Linked DNA regions of Homo sapiens: regions 1, 3 and 4 are each reported to be linked to region 2. Evidence: microRNA targets listed by miRTarBase, many of them from high-throughput screens and not tested one by one. Region 2 holds a microRNA gene; each other region holds the end of a gene's coding sequence.
The links. Region 2 holds the annotated microRNA hsa-miR-548t-5p (CAAAAGUGAUCGUGGUUUUUG, at 1,792-1,812, shown strand). A microRNA usually pairs through its seed, bases 2 to 8, with sites in the 3' UTR of a target mRNA and lowers its output. Matches are read on the target gene's strand: a 7mer-m8 pairs with bases 2 to 8, a 7mer-A1 pairs with bases 2 to 7 and ends in A, and an 8mer does both.

Region 1: the mRNA of ZNF850 is a reported target of hsa-miR-548t-5p. Seed matches in the 3' UTR shown: 7mer-m8 at 1,043-1,049 and 7mer-A1 at 3,484-3,490.
Region 3: miRTarBase lists RAN as a target of hsa-miR-548t-5p. Seed matches in the 3' UTR shown: 7mer-m8 at 2,811-2,817.
Region 4: miRTarBase lists ASB1 as a target of hsa-miR-548t-5p. The part of its 3' UTR that is shown has no 7-base or 8-base seed match.

What each region holds. Positions count from the first base shown.
Region 1 is chr19:36,744,565-36,748,714 of GRCh38, reverse strand. It overlaps ZNF850 (zinc finger protein 850), which reads left to right. Exons shown (of 5, transcript NM_001193552.2): 5 at 1-4,150. The coding sequence ends at 948. Among named protein-coding and RNA genes, the nearest start is that of ZNF850, 26 kb to the left of the region's middle.
Region 2 is chr4:173,266,378-173,270,542 of GRCh38, forward strand. MIR548T (microRNA 548t) reads left to right here and starts at 1,783; the gene lies at 1,783-1,856. All of the region lies in intron 2 of GALNT7 (polypeptide N-acetylgalactosaminyltransferase 7), which reads left to right. It overlaps LOC124900812 (a long non-coding RNA gene), which reads right to left. Exons shown (of 3, transcript XR_007058367.1): 2 at 1-4,165.
Region 3 is chr12:130,875,422-130,879,586 of GRCh38, reverse strand. It overlaps RAN (RAN, member RAS oncogene family), which reads right to left. Exons shown (of 7, transcript NM_006325.5): 6 at 3,805-3,975; 7 at 1,909-3,705. The coding sequence ends at 3,661. Among named protein-coding and RNA genes, the nearest start is that of RAN, 5.4 kb to the right of the region's middle. RefSeq lists enhancers at 1-136, 157-376 and a silencer at 889-1,183.
Region 4 is chr2:238,446,252-238,450,416 of GRCh38, reverse strand. ASB1 (ankyrin repeat and SOCS box containing 1) reads right to left here. Exons shown (of 5, transcript NM_001040445.3): 5 at 1-4,033. The coding sequence ends at 3,906. Among named protein-coding and RNA genes, the nearest start is that of ASB1, 21 kb to the right of the region's middle. RefSeq lists an enhancer at 1-135.

The sequences.
Region 1 (4,150 bases), not on the chromosome of region 2:
CAGCAAATACACACTGGTGAGAAGCTCTATGATTGTAAGGAATGTGGGAAATCTTTTACTTCTCATTCAACACTAATTCAACATCAGCCACTTCACACTGGTGAGAAACCTTATCATTGCAAGGAATGTGGGAAATCTTTTACTCTTCGCTCAGCACTAATTCAACATCGGCCAGTTCACACTGGTGAGAAACGCTACAGTTGTAAAGAATGTGGGAAATCTTTTACTTCTCGCTCAACACTAATTGAACATCAGCGAATTCACACTGGTGAGAAACCCTATCATTGTAAGGAATGTGGAAAATCTTTTGCTTTTCGCTCAGCAATAATCCAACATCGGCGAATTCACACTGGTGAGAAACCCTATGATTGTAAGGAATGTGGCAAGGCCTTTAGACGTCGTTCAAAACTTACTCAACATCAACGAATCCATACTGGTGAGAAACCTTATCGATGTCATGAATGTGGAAAAGCCTTTGTCCGTTTCTCAGGACTCACCAAACATCACAGTATTCACACTGGCGAGAAACCCTATGAATGTAAGACATGTGGGAAGTCCTTCAGACAGCGTACACACCTTACTCTACATCAGAGAATTCATACCGGTGACAGACCTTATGAATGTAAAGAATGTGGGAAATCTTTTACTTGCGGCTCAGAACTAATTCGACATCAGCGAACTCACACTGGTGAGAAACCTTATGATTGTAAGGAATGTGGGAAGGCCTTTAGATGTCCTTCACAACTTAGTCAACATAAACGAATCCATACTGGTGAGAAAACTTATCAATGTCCGGAATGTGGGAAAGCCTTTTTCTATGCCTCAGGACTCAGCCGACATCAGAGTGTTCACACTGGCGAGAAACCCTATGAATGTAAGACATGTGGGAAGGCCTTTAAACAGCTTACACAGCTTACTCGACATCAGAGAATTCATGACCTAACATAATTAATGTAGGAAACTGTTCTCATGCCATTTGTCATGGATCATCAGCAGATTCCATATGTGGGTCAAATACAATGGATGTGTATTACTTCATATTCACTTTTTCCAGAATTACGACTTTTTTTTTTTTTTTTGAGACGGAGTCTTGCTCTGTCGCCCAGGCTGGAGTGCAGTGGCGCTATCTCGGCTCACTGCAAGCTCTGCCTCCTGGGTTCATGCCATTCTCCTGCCTCAGCCTCCCTAGTAGCTGGGACTACAGGTACCTGCCACCACGCCTGGCTAATTTTTTTGTTTTTGTATTTTTAGTAGAGACAGGGTTTCACTGTGTTAGCCAGGATGGTCTCGATCTCCTGACCTGGTGATCCACCCACCAAAATTAGGACATTTAATACTGAAAGAAATTGATAATGAATGTAGATGAGTTTTCTATCATGATTCAAAGCTTATTGAAGTTATACAAATTCATATTAGAGAATGTGGTCAATGACAAAAGACAACCATTTACTACCTACGTGACATTAGGCTAGTTATGTAAATTCTCTGTGCCAAAATTACTAATTGATAAAATGTTGATGGCAATAGTTGTTTTTGTGTATTTTTTGTTTGTTTGTTTTGTTTTGAGACAGAGTCTTGCTCTGTTGCCCAGGCTGGAGTGCAGTGGTGCTATCTTGGCTCACTGCAACCTCTGCCTCCTGGGTTCAAGTGATTCTCCTGCCTCTGCCTCCTGAGTAGCTCAGATTACAGGCATGCACCACCATGCTTGGCTAATTTTTGTATTTTTAGTAGAGACGGGGTTTCACTGTGTTGGTCAGGGTGGTCTCAAACTTTTGACCTCGTGATCCCCCTACCTCGGCCTCCCAAAGTGCTGGGATTACAGGTGTGAGCCACCACGCCTGGCTAGTAATAGTTTTTTTATAATAAATAAGTGTGACTATATTTTTCATGTTTGACTACTGACTTTGTTTTAAGCTTCGCCTTCCCTGTCTATTTCCCTGTCTACTTTAGCCCATAACTGCAAAGGTGGCTAAGAAAGTCCTTGCTGGAAAGAAAGCAAGCAAAACTAAAGTCTGTGCGCACCTTCTCCTTTGGATCCAGTGGGCAATTTATATTAGAAATTCCAAGCCGGGCGTGGTGGCTCACGCCTGTAATGCCAGCACTTTCGGAGGCTGAGGTGGGTGGATCACCTGAGGTTAAGAGTTCAAGACCAGCCTGGCCAACATGTTGAAACCCCATCTCTACTAAAAATACAAAATCAGCCAGACATGGTGGCATATGCCTGTAATCCCAGCTATTCAGGAGGCAAGGCTGGAGAATCGCTTGAACCTGGGAGGCGGATGTTGCAGTGAGCCAGTCAGTGGAGCAGTCAGAACACACACAGTGTTTATCAATTAAGTTTGTAGTCAGAACACACACCATGTTTATCAATTAAGTTTGCTGTCTTATATGGACACAGTTTGTGATGCCCTAAAACAAGTAGTGGTGCCTAAGATAATCATAGGCCACCATAACAGATATAACAACAATGAGAAAGTTGAAATATTGTTGGGATCATCCAAATATGACACAGATACAAAGTGAGCACATGCTGGTGAATAAATGGAGCCAATAGACTTGTTCACTGCATGGTTACGTCAGAGGCGTGTAAACCAGAGCAACTTCTTCTTGAATAGGAGCTGTGTAAAGTAACACTGAAACCTACTGGACTGCATTCCTAGACAGATAAGTCATTCTAAGTCACAAGATGAGATATGAGGTCAGCATAAGATACAGGTCATAAAGACCTTGCTGAGAAAACATCTTGCAGTAAAGAAGTCGGCCAAATCCAAGATGGTGACAAGAGTGACCTCTGGTCGTCCTCACTGCTATACTCCCAGCAGCACCATGACACCCAGCTAAGTTTTTATTTTTTATTTCAGTAGAGTTGGAGTCTTGCTTTGTTACCCAGGCTGGTCTTGAATTCCTGTCTTCAAGCAATCTTCCCACCTTATGAATATAAAGAATGGCCCACCTTGTCCTCTCAAAGTGCTGGGATTACAATCATGAGCCACTGCACCTGGGACTTTCTTTTTCTTTTTTCTTTTTTTTTTTTTTGAGATGGAGTTTTGCTCTTGTTGCCCAGGCTGGAGTGCAATGGCACGATCTTGGCTCACTGCAACCTCCGCCTCCCAGGTTCAAGCGATTCTCTTGACTCAGCCTCCTGAGTAACTGGGATTACAGGCATGCTCCACCATGCCCGACTAATTTTTGTATTATTTAGTAGAGACGGGGTTTCTCCATGTTGGTCAGGCTGGTCTCTGAACTCTGGGCAGGACTAATTTAGATAAGGTAGTCAGGAAAGGCATTTCTTACAAGGTGGTATTTGCATGAATGTAGACATATGGTTGCATTTTATTATATGTAAATTACACTTCAATAAAGTTGATGAAAAAAATCTTACCTCATCGTCTATGCACTTCGGATTGTTGTATTTCATTCTATTTAAATTACACTTGCGTTTAAAAAATTTAACACTTCTCTAAAACATATCTGTTGATTTGTACTTTTACTAATATGCTTATGGATGATTTATATACACACACACACACACACATATCTTTTAAGAAGGTTATTTTAAGGTTAATCAATTGAGGCTTTGTCTCAATTGATTTTTTTTGAGACAGTCTCGTTCTGTCGCCCAGGCTGGAGTGCAGTGGCGTGATCTCGACTCACTGCAAGCTCCACCTCCCAGGTTCACGCCATTCTCCTGCCTCAGCCTCCCTAGTAGCTGTGACTACAGGTGCCCGCCACCACGCCTGGCTAATTTTTTGTATTTGTAGTAGAGACGGAATTTCACCATGTTAGCCAGGATGGTCTCAATCTCCTGACCTCATGACCCGCCCACCTCGGCCTCCCAAAGTGCTGGGATTACAGGCGTGAGCCACCCCGCCCGGCTCAATTGATTCTTTTGTCTCAATTTGTAGTCAGTTGAGGTTTGTCTCAATTTATGGAAACAAATCAAATGTTTGTTCTCAAATTCTTACTCTGTCATTTATTATTCTCCATGTTTTTGTAACTGCTTCCTTGGAGATATTTAAACATAAATATATACAGAGAGGGTGAAGATGGAGGAGTGCTTTTTACAGTTCACAGTTGTCTTTTTCATGTGTGACAGGTTTTTGCTGTGTTGCCCAGGCTGGAGTGCAATGCCACAATCTTGGCTCACTGC
Region 2 (4,165 bases):
ATGTGATCATCCAGGATTAAATTAAGTGGCTGAGAAGAATGAATCCAGGTCTTCTAGGACCGACCTTTCACTATACCAGACAAAAGAGCACGAAAGTGTGTTGATCAGAGCAGTAGTTTTAATTGTAGTATTTTTGATACATTTGTGAAACATTTTATAGTAATAAAAATTTTTACTTAGGAGCAAAAGAAGTATGTTATCAATCCCAAGGTAACTCTTTTTAAATGTGGACATATAAAATTCCAATTATATGTAGAAGGGCCTCTGCTTAAATCTAAGTTGTAAGAAGTTATACTATTAATAAGAGAACAGATATAAAAATAATAAAATCCTGCCATTTTCGGCAACATGGATGAGCATGGGGGACATTATGTTAAAAATAAGCCAGGCACCGAAAGACAAGTATTGCATGTTCTCACTCACGTGGAAGCTAAAAAATTTGATCTCATGGAGGTAGAGAGTATAATGACGGCTACCTGAGGCTGGGAAGGGTGTGTGTGTGTGTGTGTGTGTGTGTGTGTGTGTGTGTGTGTGTGTGTGTGTGTGTGTGGAGGGCTGGGATGTGGGATAAAGAGGGGTTGGCTAATGGCTATAAACATACAGTTAGCTGGAAGGAATAAGTTCTAATGGTCAATAGGACAGCAGGTGACCATAGTTAACAACAATGTATTGTGTATTTCAAAAGGGCTAGAAAAGAATATTTGGGATGTTCCCAACACAAAGAAATGATAAATGTTTGAGGTGGTGCATATCCTAAATACCCTGCTTTGATCATTACCCATTATATGCATGTATCCATATATCACATGTATCCCATAAATAGGTACTATTATCATATATTAATTTTTAAAAGCCACCTTAGTATGGCCTAGAAGTAGAGGATCAGTGTTGAGGGTATGGGCAAAATTTACCATTGTACCATGCCTGTCACTTAGATCACCCTCCAGCCTGGCCCCTGAAACGCGTACCTGAATGCTAGGGAGATACACTGAAAGAGCATTCCATTAAAATGCCTGTCAAACTGAAGGATGGCAAATTTCTGTACTTGAGGGTTTGTGGACACCCATAGGCAGATTACCAGCCAGTGGCTTCTGCAGCGCCAGGAAACCATGCCTGGGCACAGACCAGCAAATGTCATCAGCAATGGCCATTCCTTAGAATAGGCACAGCAGGGGGACCAGCTTCACAGGACCAGGGGCCCCTTTGCAGCAGAGTCTTCACCTCAGCAAGCAGAGCTCACAGAAAATGAGGGGTGCTGCATGGTATCCGAGAGTGCCAAGTTCATAAATACACATGAGGTTCACTTTGGGAATCCCATACAGAGCTGAAAGAGTGATGAGCATGATATTGAGCATTTAGGGAGCTTTGGTTTCCTCTTCTAGCAATTGTGGATAATAATACTTGGCTTGTAAAGTTATTGTGGGTAACAAATGTGCTAAAGGACATAAAAGGCATATCACACATGAGCTCCACCGGTTGGAGGTCACAGTTGTTGGAGGCCACCTTCATCCCTTGTGTGGCATAGAGAAGCTTCAGAAGCTCTTTTTTCTGTATAGGCCTCTCATCATGCCAGGTGTGTGGTATTCAGCCTTATCTTTAAAATATGGTACCCTCTTCATTGTATTTCATCCTGCCGTCTTACTACAAAAGAGGAGGAGTCCTAAAGGAAGTTAGTAAATACAAAGAAGTTCTTAAGGTCAACCTAAGATAAAGAAATGCTTGCTTGTAAGTGCTGGGTGATTGAATCTATAATTTGCGTCAAGAGAAGTGAAGAAAAATGTTAGGGTGGTGCAAAAGTGATCGTGGTTTTTGCAATTTTTTAATGACAAAAACCACAATTACTTTTGCACCAACCTAACCTTGTTTTAGGCATGTATCTATTTAAAGACACTTTATTTTACCTATAACGTTGATGGGTTTACATTGAACTCAGGGCCAATAGCACTGTAACTCGCACCCAAACAAAGCTTGTCTCACGTGGATTTTCTGCACAGGACACAGCACAGCATCTTTGTGCTTAGGATACCAGGTAGCACACTGACATTATTCTCGGGAGGCTGTTTTAAACAGCAAAATTACCAACTAAAAGCACAAAAATGAGAAAATCTGTGGCACCAAACAAACTGCAAATAGGACACTTGTTTTCTCTCTCGTTTTTTTTTTTTTTTTTTTTTTTTTTTGAGATGGAGTCTCGCTCTGTAGCCCAGGCGTGGCGCCATCTTGGCTCACAGCAAGCTCTGCCTCCCAGGTTCACGCCATTCTCCTGCCTCAGCCTCCCGAGTAGCTGGGACTACAGGCGTCCACCACCACGCCCAGCTAATTTTTTTTTTTTTTTGTATTTTTAGTAGAGATGGGGTTTCACCGTGTTAGCCAGGATGGTCTCAATCTCCTGACCTCTTGATCCGCCCTTCTTGGCCTCCCAAAGTGCTGGGATTACAGGCGTGAGCCACCGCACCCGGACACTTGTTTACTCTATGAGCAGAAACAAGAAACAGAACATCCTCGTGTGCATGCCCATCAGGCATCTCCAATTGCAATCCACATTTGTGGACGTAGAATCCACAAATAATAAGGAGCCACTGAATTTTTGTATATTTAGTATGGGGCTCAGGTTAATCACAGAAATATTTACTATATAGTTAGTGGGCAAAATGCCCAGTACCCCATTATAATAAACCCAAATCTCAGTAACAGTGAAGATGTTTCTCAGAGGGGCATGGCTCCTCTGATGTTTGTCAGATAAGCATGTCTTATTATAGGGGCACTCAGACAACAGAGGCACAGAACAAAACAAAATATTTTTTGTCTGTTAATTTATTTCAAAAATGAAATCTGATAATGGCTTTTAGAAATGTGAAGACCAAAAAGCATCAAATTTTGTTTTTCCATTTAAGGAATAGAAATAAAGTGGCCGAGTTATTATTATATGTTCCGCCCATAATTCATCTTTCCTTGCTCCTTCCCACCCCTCCCCACTTTATCTTCCACCTCCTTTTATAGATACCTAACTGCTAAAATGGGCTTGGGAAGGCAGCTGGAATCATGCCAAGGTGTACCCAACAGAAGCTGCTGCAGTTAGTGACATGAGCTATGGAACACAGGAGGTCTTTTGCACTGATTGGAATATTTATTAGATTTAGTGCTGAAATAGTCTCTGCTGATAAGCAGACCTAATCTGAATTTCAAAGGTCCTTATGACCACGTAAATGTGATAGTATCATATCCTCAGGCCCCAAGTGCATCACCTTTCCTAAATGGTTGGATGCTGTATTGAATCTATTTAATATCCTGGTAACTAGCTTTGACTTTTTTCAGGAATACTTAATAATTTTAGATTTAATCTTCCCTCCTCCTCCTCCTCCTCAACAGAAGTAATTTAAATTCTTTCCAAGTAGTCATTGCACCTGTTTCTTACTTCAATCTTGGTCTCAAAGAAATATACAACAAACTCCGATAGACCACGGCCATAAAGTCCAATTTTATAATCATGCAGGAAAAGGAATGCTTCTTGAGGATCAAAAGTTGCAGTCATGATGCTAGGATGTTTCATATCCAGTAAAACTAGAGACACCCCACCTCATCAGCTGATTGTGGGAGAAGTCGTTTACAAAAGTCCTGTGAAGAAAGAACTAGATGATATAAATGTATGCATATTTCTAGAACCTGAAAAATATAAAAAGATAATCAAGTGTACTTGGACCCATAGCCACTGGTTTTAACCATTCTGCAGAAGTATAGCGCAATTATTATTGGCAATATGTGAAGATATGGATGATTTCATGGGGAAATCTTTGAAATTAAAGTGGGATAATTTGGAGGTACAGGGGAAATGTTTTTCCCTTTAAACTGTGGCAATAACCCTTGTAATTGCATGTGCTCTCCAGAATAAAGATATAGCAGATTGACATCAGCTTCAGAAAATGAGACATTAGGTACCTGAGGGATTCAGTCAAATTGCTCCTATGAAATCTTGAGTTTTGAAGATTGAAAAAAAAATGCTTGTTTTTGTGACAAGTGTTTTGGGGAATATTTTAGGGGATAATTGATGTTCTGCATTCCAATACCTTAGGTAATGAGGAAGCTGTGGAAACAGCCTCCTTTCTTTTATGAAGGCTTTCGTATTCAAGATCACCATAGAGGTCAGTGCTGTGAAGCTAATCTTGGA
Region 3 (4,165 bases), not on the chromosome of region 2:
CCTTCTCAGGCCTCAGACCAGGCCCCTGCGATGCTCCCAAAGCCTCAGCTGTCCGTCCTCACACTCACTGTGGCGCTCAGCCTCATCCCAGGAACCTGACTGCCTGTCTCCCCAGGCGAAGGCTTCATGAGCAAAGCCACTGCAGCATCGCACGGTGTATCTCTGAGCACAGCTGACTTGACAGAAGGACTCAACTGTCCACATTACCGAAGACTGAGGTATACGGAATGGTTTCTGTTTTGCTTCTTCAAGGAGGGGAACTGAAACCCAACTAAATCCAAGGTGCCTCTTCCAACGCCTGTAACTAAACTTCAAGCATCACAGCCCCAACACCTGCTGATGGCACCATTTTAACTGAGGTCCATCCCGCAAGCTTCCCGACTGTCCACACTGGCTCTCTCTACTCCTGTGCACCAAAGAAACAAGCCAGAATAAATGGATAAAAGACAGTGTATGCGCATGCCTGTCCCAGCTACCCAGGAGGCTGAGGCATGAGAACCGCTTGAACCCGGGAGGCAGAGGTTGCAGTGAGCCGAGACGGCGCCACTGCACTCCAGCCTGGGAGACAGAGCGAGACTCTAAAAAATAAATAAATAAATTAAATAAATAAATAAATAAAATTAAAAAGATAGTGTAGGCTACAAACCTCAGGAAGAAAATACCAGCATGACTTCAGAATAGTCAGACCTAATGGTGTATAAAGTTCTCCCGGCTCCTCTCCACCCACCTCCATCAATCCCACCCTATCTCTAACCCCCAAGTTCTCTGTTCCTCGAGGTTCCCATAGAACATTTAATAAACACTAGGGACATGAGAGAGCAGCGACATGGCCCTCGCCCTCGTGGCAATTAGTCTAGGAAGGGAAAGTCGCTATCGCAAATTTGCCATGCTGACTAGGGCTGAAGGCAATCTTGTAATGTCTGTAGTCGGACATCCAACTCAAGGTAAAAAGCAGAGTGAACTCTAAAGGAACTAAAGCATTAACTGGTAGGACCGACTTCAGGAGAGGGAAGGGGGAGTTCTGGAAAGCAGCATGCACACAGATCTCAAGATGCACGTGTGACCAGAGCCTGCAAGACCTTGTAGGAAATGTGGAGCAGGCGAGATGCATCAGATGTTTTTTGAATAGGACTCTGACCCCTTAACTAAAGATAAGGTTTCCATGGTTAGGTGCCGTTTCTCCCCACCATGCCCTCGGCTTCAAGGGTAAAAGGTGCTGCAAGGAGTTAGGATAGGTGCTGTCCTAGTACAGGGTCTGCCTCATACAGGGAAAGCTTAGTCTCACGTAATCTTGCTGGGCAGGATAGCCCTGTACAGCCCGAGTGGCAGAAAACATCATACACGATGTCCGTCAGTTTGCTGGCAAGAAAAGCTGAATCCAACCCTCATCCCATTTGCTCAGCAGGTAATTTTTTGTGTTTCTGATCTGTTTTTGCAAAAGAAACCAGAAATTCTCTGTACTTGAGTTCCTTCAGGTGAACAGTTAGCCAGGAAACCAGTCCTCTTTGGAGGCTATTTTGGAGTCTCATCTTTTCTAGACATTTTATGATTGATACAATTTTTTAAAAAATCCCATTCTATGTGGTTTTTTAAAAAAACTGGCTCTCACACAAATTGAAACTACTAATTTACCAGTTTCACATTATATCCACACAAGACCTATGCACTAACTATGCTTTTTCTTAATGACTTTGCTCTAATAAGCTATTACTGGTTTGCAGTAACTTCATATAAAGCTTTCAAGGCTTCCCCCATTAGACACGAGATTTCAAAAAATGGAGAGCAGACTTTTCCCATTTGTACAATCTGGAGAGAACTGACCCCTTCCCCGCCGCCCCCCCAAAAGATAATAATCTCTGCTAACTCTTCAGCATTTCCTAAAGCAAATACTAGAGATGATTCAAAAAATCCAGGCAAAGTAGAAGCAATATATTTTGCAACAATTATTCTTTCAATAAAGGACTTGTAAATTCTCTCCCACACCACGTTAGACAGGTAAGTGACGTCACTTCCAAATTTCAACTGTTACATAGAAGATCCAGAATGTCAACACCACTTGCAATCTCCACAAGGTTACAAACAACACATACACCTTCAATTCAAAATACCTGAATGAAAGGTTTCATCCCAATTATGGGGAAAAAACTTCCCATCTCACAGGCTGGTTAGAAACTGGTTCTGAATACAGCGTAACATACACAGCAATTCAGATCTTAAGAAACTCAACTGTTGCCAGTTAATACAGTAAGTAGAACTTTATTCAGCTTCACCCTTATTTCATTTTTCCATATATTTAAGTGATCCTTTCTATACCTTTTAAGGTAAGCAATCATCTCAAGATTATCAGACATCTAAAGAAAACTTTGGTAAACTGGACTATAGTAATCGTATGAGAAAAAAATAGCTCAAGATTCCTAACTGCTACAAGAATAGTGTTGATGGGATCAAACTCCTAATTATCCTAATAGACCTAATTCATTTTTAAATGTGGAAAATATGCAAGATAAATTAAATGCTTAGTTAAAAAAAAAAAAAAGTTTCACCAACTGTTCTCCATTACTGAGAAGCCCCCACACTGCCCCACTGTGCATATTCCTAGTATTTCATCCATGTCCTGCTCTGCTGTGCTGCCCTACAAAAAAACCCTCCCGGGGGGGAAAAAAAAACAAAAAAACGGTGTAGTGTGAACTGCTGAAGAACTTAAATGTTCAAGACATCTTTAAAGTCTAGGAGTACCTGAAAACTGTGGGTAAACATGGACCATTTTCCTTGCGTATCAACTTCACACTAAGCATCTAACATTCAAACAAAAAAGTGCAAAATTTGTAATTATTTTTAACAGCAAGAATTCCCAACCTCCTGCCATCCACTGATGTTCCATCCTGTTTGAGGTTCTACATTAAAACATGATTACTTTTGCCATAAAAGAAAATATTACCCTTAAAATATCTATTTGATATGTACAAACCACATTTTTATTCTGACAGGTCACAGATTTTGAGCAAGTGCTTCCCTAGGTGACCCTACCTAGCCAATATGAAGGTGGAGCAAACACTGCTTTAGCTTAACTGCACTAATATTTACACCATGTAACCCTTCTAACCAAATAGAATACTGCTGACCTGTCATCATCAGTTTGTGTGACATGGCTCAAATGTACAAAAATAAACATAGGGAGAAATTAACCCAATAGATTTCAAATTAAGTGATAAAAGCAAGGCAATTCAAATATTAACATGGCATAAAACTTCCCTACTTTAGTGGTTTCCAAATGCTATTTATAAACAAGGGATGAGTTCACTTGCTTAGATATTTGAAATACAACTTTATTCTGATTCTAAACGAAAAGGAATGGGAATGACAGTAACAAACAAGATTTCACCACTGAATATTGTGATGTGACTGCAGCAGTCTTATATATGAAACTCAAGGAATCAACTGCGTTCCAAAACAGCTAAATATGCAGGTCCAAACAATGAAGTTATTTTTTAAACTGCCACATTCACTCCGAAGCCCACTCATCTCCTTCAGCATCCCACAGATGAAGCACATGTTCCGCTTAGCTAGATAATAATGAGGTGGCACACACGCTGCACCGCTGACATCACAGGACAGCTGCCTATAAAACTAGACTTCTGACGCTGGGCTCCAGCTTCATTCTCACAGGTCATCATCCTCATCCGGGAGAGCAGTTGTCTGAGCAACCTAGACGAAGAGATGGAAAAACGTTAACACTCCAGATCAAAACTGCCAGGAATAAACAAGCCAAACCGAACAATCTGAACAGCAAAGTGGCCACAATACCTCTAAGTCGTGCTCATACTGTGCTGCCAAAGCTGGGTCCATGACAACTTCTGGTGGGGCGAGAGCAGGCATGGCAACAAATTCCAAGTTAGGGTCTCCAATGAGCTTCCTAGCAAGCCAGAGGAAGGGCTTTTCAAAGTTGTAGTTACTTTTGGCAGAAATGTCGTAGTACTGTTTAAAAGAAAGGTAAAATTACTTTTTAAAATTCATTATTAAGATGACGATTTTTCTAGGACATTGCAAGATAAGAAAATGTTAAGATTCTTGGCAAGGCATGGTGGCTCATGCCTGTAATCCCAGCACTTTCGGGGGCTGAGGTGGGATTGCCTGAGGCCAATAGTACACGATCAGGCCTGGGCAA
Region 4 (4,165 bases), not on the chromosome of region 2:
AGCAAAAATATTGCCCTCTACTTTTACCTTCATTACATAAAAGGAAATTTTATCATCCAAATAAGGAAGAAAATAACTTCAGAATAAAGAACAATCCTTTAAGTTGAACAAATGTGACTTCATCAATTATTTACCATGCTGTTCTCATACGCCTCACCTGCATAGAGCGCTCTGTCCCCAGTGCTATGCTGTGGGCCACAAGGACTCTGGCCCATCGGGGTCCACAGTCCAGCCCGGATCTCCCAGGGTCACACGTTCATCCAGCCCTGTCACCATCTCAAATGCATTTCCACTAAGAAGAGGGACAAGTCACCAGGACAGCAGTTTACACACACATGGAGACTGCTTGCGTAACACATTGCTTCCCATGTGACCCCACAAAACCCTGCCAGAAAGGCACAGCAGGAAGCCTTGTCCCTGTCTGAAGTGGAGCTGCCTCTGTTAATAGGGATGTGGCCAAGGCCGCACGGATGGCAGCAAAGCACAGGCCAAGCGTCTCTCTCAGGCAGACTCTTCCTTGGCTCAGTCCTATGTCTGCTGTATCTTCCTCTCCTTCTCTCAAGAACTTTTAATTTGAAGAATCAATTCATTGAAAAAGGAAAAAGAAAACTTACTAAAAACAATTGTTCCTTCTCTTTAAAATTACCTGTTTAACAAGTACATTTTAACAATGTACTAAATTTTCAAATGTCAAAAGAAAACACCAAAAAACAAGCATTGTTGCCTTAAACACTTTTCTGGAACAAGGCAGAATATAAATAAATAAATAAATAACACGAGTGATGCAAAGAGTCACAGAATGTGGGTGATATTGATGGGTTTATCTAAAACCCCTCACCCGGGACTCCAAAGCTGAATTCTCAGAGTTACCAACGTTGTCCCCCACCCCACCACAGCCCAGCCCAGCCCATCTGTTGACAGCAGCCAAGGCCCAGGGCCCAGGACTGTTCCACAGCCACTGGCAGTGGTGACAGTCAGATGCTTCTGGGATGCAACCAGGGGCAACCTTCAGGCTCCTTCCCCCAGCCCATCGAGCCCCTCTCCTAGGGAGGACTCCGGGCCAGCCAGGCAGCAGCCTCACTGAGGACCACGTTTCCCTGTCCCATGGGACTTGGGCGCCCCAGGGCTTAGAAAGGTGATTTCCTAAAGTGCTTAGGCGGAAAGTGCTACTCTTCCTATTCTGTAACCTGTCCTTGCCAACAGAAAAAAAAGGGAGCTTTAGTGAAGGAAGGCAATGCCACTAAAACCCAGGAGGAATGACCTTAGCTACCCACCCTGTTTTCAGATTCATATTTGGCAGCTATGAAACAAGATACCAAACCTCCAAATTGTTTGGATTCTGAAAAAATTGGCAAAGGCTGGCTTGAACAGAGAGGAAGTTGAACATGTCCTCTGCAAATGAAAAGCTGAGACCCTAGACACCTGCAGGCCAGCCAGGCTGGGCCACAGGCCAGGGAAGGGCCATGAGAGGCCCCCTCCTCCAGCTCATTCTCTCCCCAGATACATCATTCCCTGGCCAGGTCTGGGTGAGTCTTCTCTGCAACGATCCATTCAGTCCACTCCTCCTAGAGAGACCAGGGGCAGTGACCTGGTCCCTCCAAAACAGGCCCTGGGCTGTGCAAAGGAGCATGACGCCCATGCTGCCACATCTGGGTCCTTGCCTCTGTGCAGCCTGAAGGTCACACCACCACACTCACGCATGGGACTCCCACGAGGCAGCATTCCCAGGTGCTGCTTCCCAAAAGGTTCAATAACTGAGCCACCTCCTGCACCGGGCAGGGCTGGGGAGGCCTCGTCCTTAACAGGCCCCTGCAGAAAGTACTCAGTAGAGCAGACGCAGAGCGTATCATGTGTCTACAACATGGCTCACCTCGAAAAAAGCCACCCTCCTCTGAGCCCAAAGGGTGGCAGGAAGAAGAGCCTCGAGGTGGGAGGAGCTAAACAGTAAGCCAGTAAAGAGCCAGAGTGCAGGGAGCTAACCAGCCTCCCTGAAAGCCCCTATCAGCCCTACCAGGGTGATGAGCCACTGCCTACGACCTCCAGTGACAAGGCCCAGTCCACGGTGGTGGCTCCAACTTCCGTATCATCATTCCTTAACTCCCTATAGCTCCTGCCCCAGCCACAGCCCAATTTTTGTCCTAGTCCCACTTTGGTACCACAAAGAACACGCCCACCCCCTCTCCCGGGCTGAAGCCCCTGCAGCACCCAGCCCCGGCTGTCCTGGCCCTCCCCAGCCGCTCACCACCTGCGGTTCCTCTCCTATCTTGGGAAGACCCTCCTGGCTTCAGCAGGACCCAATCCCAAGCTCCCCTCGGGAACAGCACACAGCCCACATTTACACAACCATCACAGCTTCTAACAGTGTCACCTCAGCTGAGGAAACACCTCCCGGATTGCATTTTCCCCTCTGAATCACCCGAGGACTGTTCTTCCCTTCGGAACTGCATCTGCACATACACGGGTCAGCTGGGGTGACCCACACAGAGCCCATTTGTGACACAAGGGGTTGGGGGTATAGAATTCTATCCTCTGGCTGTAGAACGCAATAATGGCCAGACACTGCCTGCCTGCTAAGACACACAGTGATGCTACTAAGTAAATAAAACGGTATCATTGTTCAAGTTTTACAAATTGGATTTCTCTTATTACAGAAAATCAAACACAGATTTGAAATCTGCGCCTTCCTAAATATATCTGAAGTCTAGAATCACCATGGATCCACACAATGGTCCTCATGGGCTTCAAATGACGAAATGTGATTCACTGGAAACAGCAGCAACCTGGGAGGGCTCTGAGGCTGCAGCCACCAGCCCACCTGCCGGTGACCCTCACACCTGGCTGTGCAGCCCTGGGTAAGGGGAAGCCCAACTCATGCAGCCAAAGCTATCAGCAATGATAACCCAGGCCATCTCTCTCCCGGGAAAGACTTCTGACCTCACTGCTATCCCCTGCATAGATTCTAGAAGCAGCGACCAAGACAAAAGAGAGCAATCAACCAACCGCCAGATGTTCTGTCCACTGGACAGCATGCGCCTGGAGGCTCATAACCACCCAGAGGACTCGCTGCATTTTTCACTTTCTGGTACGTGTGGGGGACAGAAGACAGCGCCTCGGGCATTTTCCTCGCCTATTAGAACTGGCAGTGAATGCTGTTGGAACGGTCCTTGGTCCCAAGGAAGGCAGTCATTTCCTGGGGAGTTTGGTGTGGGCCTCCTAAAATCAATCACTGGAAGCTCCCTAAGGTGAAGTGGCAGAAAAATCGTGACACCTGATGAGAGGCACAGTAGGTGTTGGAACAGGTGCCGTGCAGCCAGGAAACCACCCTTGAGTGAAGACACTCACTATGAGACCTCCATCGCAAAGAGAGAATACTGAAGGGGCAAGGAAGGGGCGTGTATGACAAGCGCATGTGTTACCCCAGGAGCAGGAAAAACCAACCAGCAAGTTCATGAACTGCATTTCTGTCCTCTATTTTGCTTACGAAACTCCCTTTTCATTGAGATACTAGAAGGCTTTAATCGAACCATCAAATTGAGAAGTAGAAAAATAAAGAGAAGCACAGTTCCAGAAGTGCTGGGAGTCTTCCCTACAGGGAAATTAGTAGGCCTCCAACCTCAGCCCCTACATGTACATACCCCATGGCCCGTTACATTAATATGCAACTGAAAATCCAGAACAGAGAACTTGGGAAAAACAATAATAACTTTAGTATAAGCCTCTCAGCTGACAATGACCCAAGGACTGTTCAGCGGCCCAGGCACCTGAGGAGCAATGACAGTCTACGAGGACATCTTCTGCAGCAACAGCCATCAGGAGACCAGCAGCAGCACAGCACTCAGGGCTCGGTGTCCACCTCCCTGCAGATCACTTTCTCCCTCACTGGAATCAACCGCAGCACTTGGAGTCTACTCATGGAGTAGAAACTTCTTTATGGGGTCTGGCAGAGGCAGCGAAGGAATCAGATGAAGCCGGTGTTTGCCAAGAGCTCTTCTCACAGCCACACGGCACAGACACAGCAAGGTTCTGGGAACACCTGAAGGCCGTGGGAAGAAAGAGAGGGATAGAGGAAGGTTCATTCTATTCCAGTTATAGAGAGAAAAGGCAGCTGGGACTGCCAGCCAGAAGTGCACCAATGCTCACTACCAACTTCAAAACGCTCAGTGAA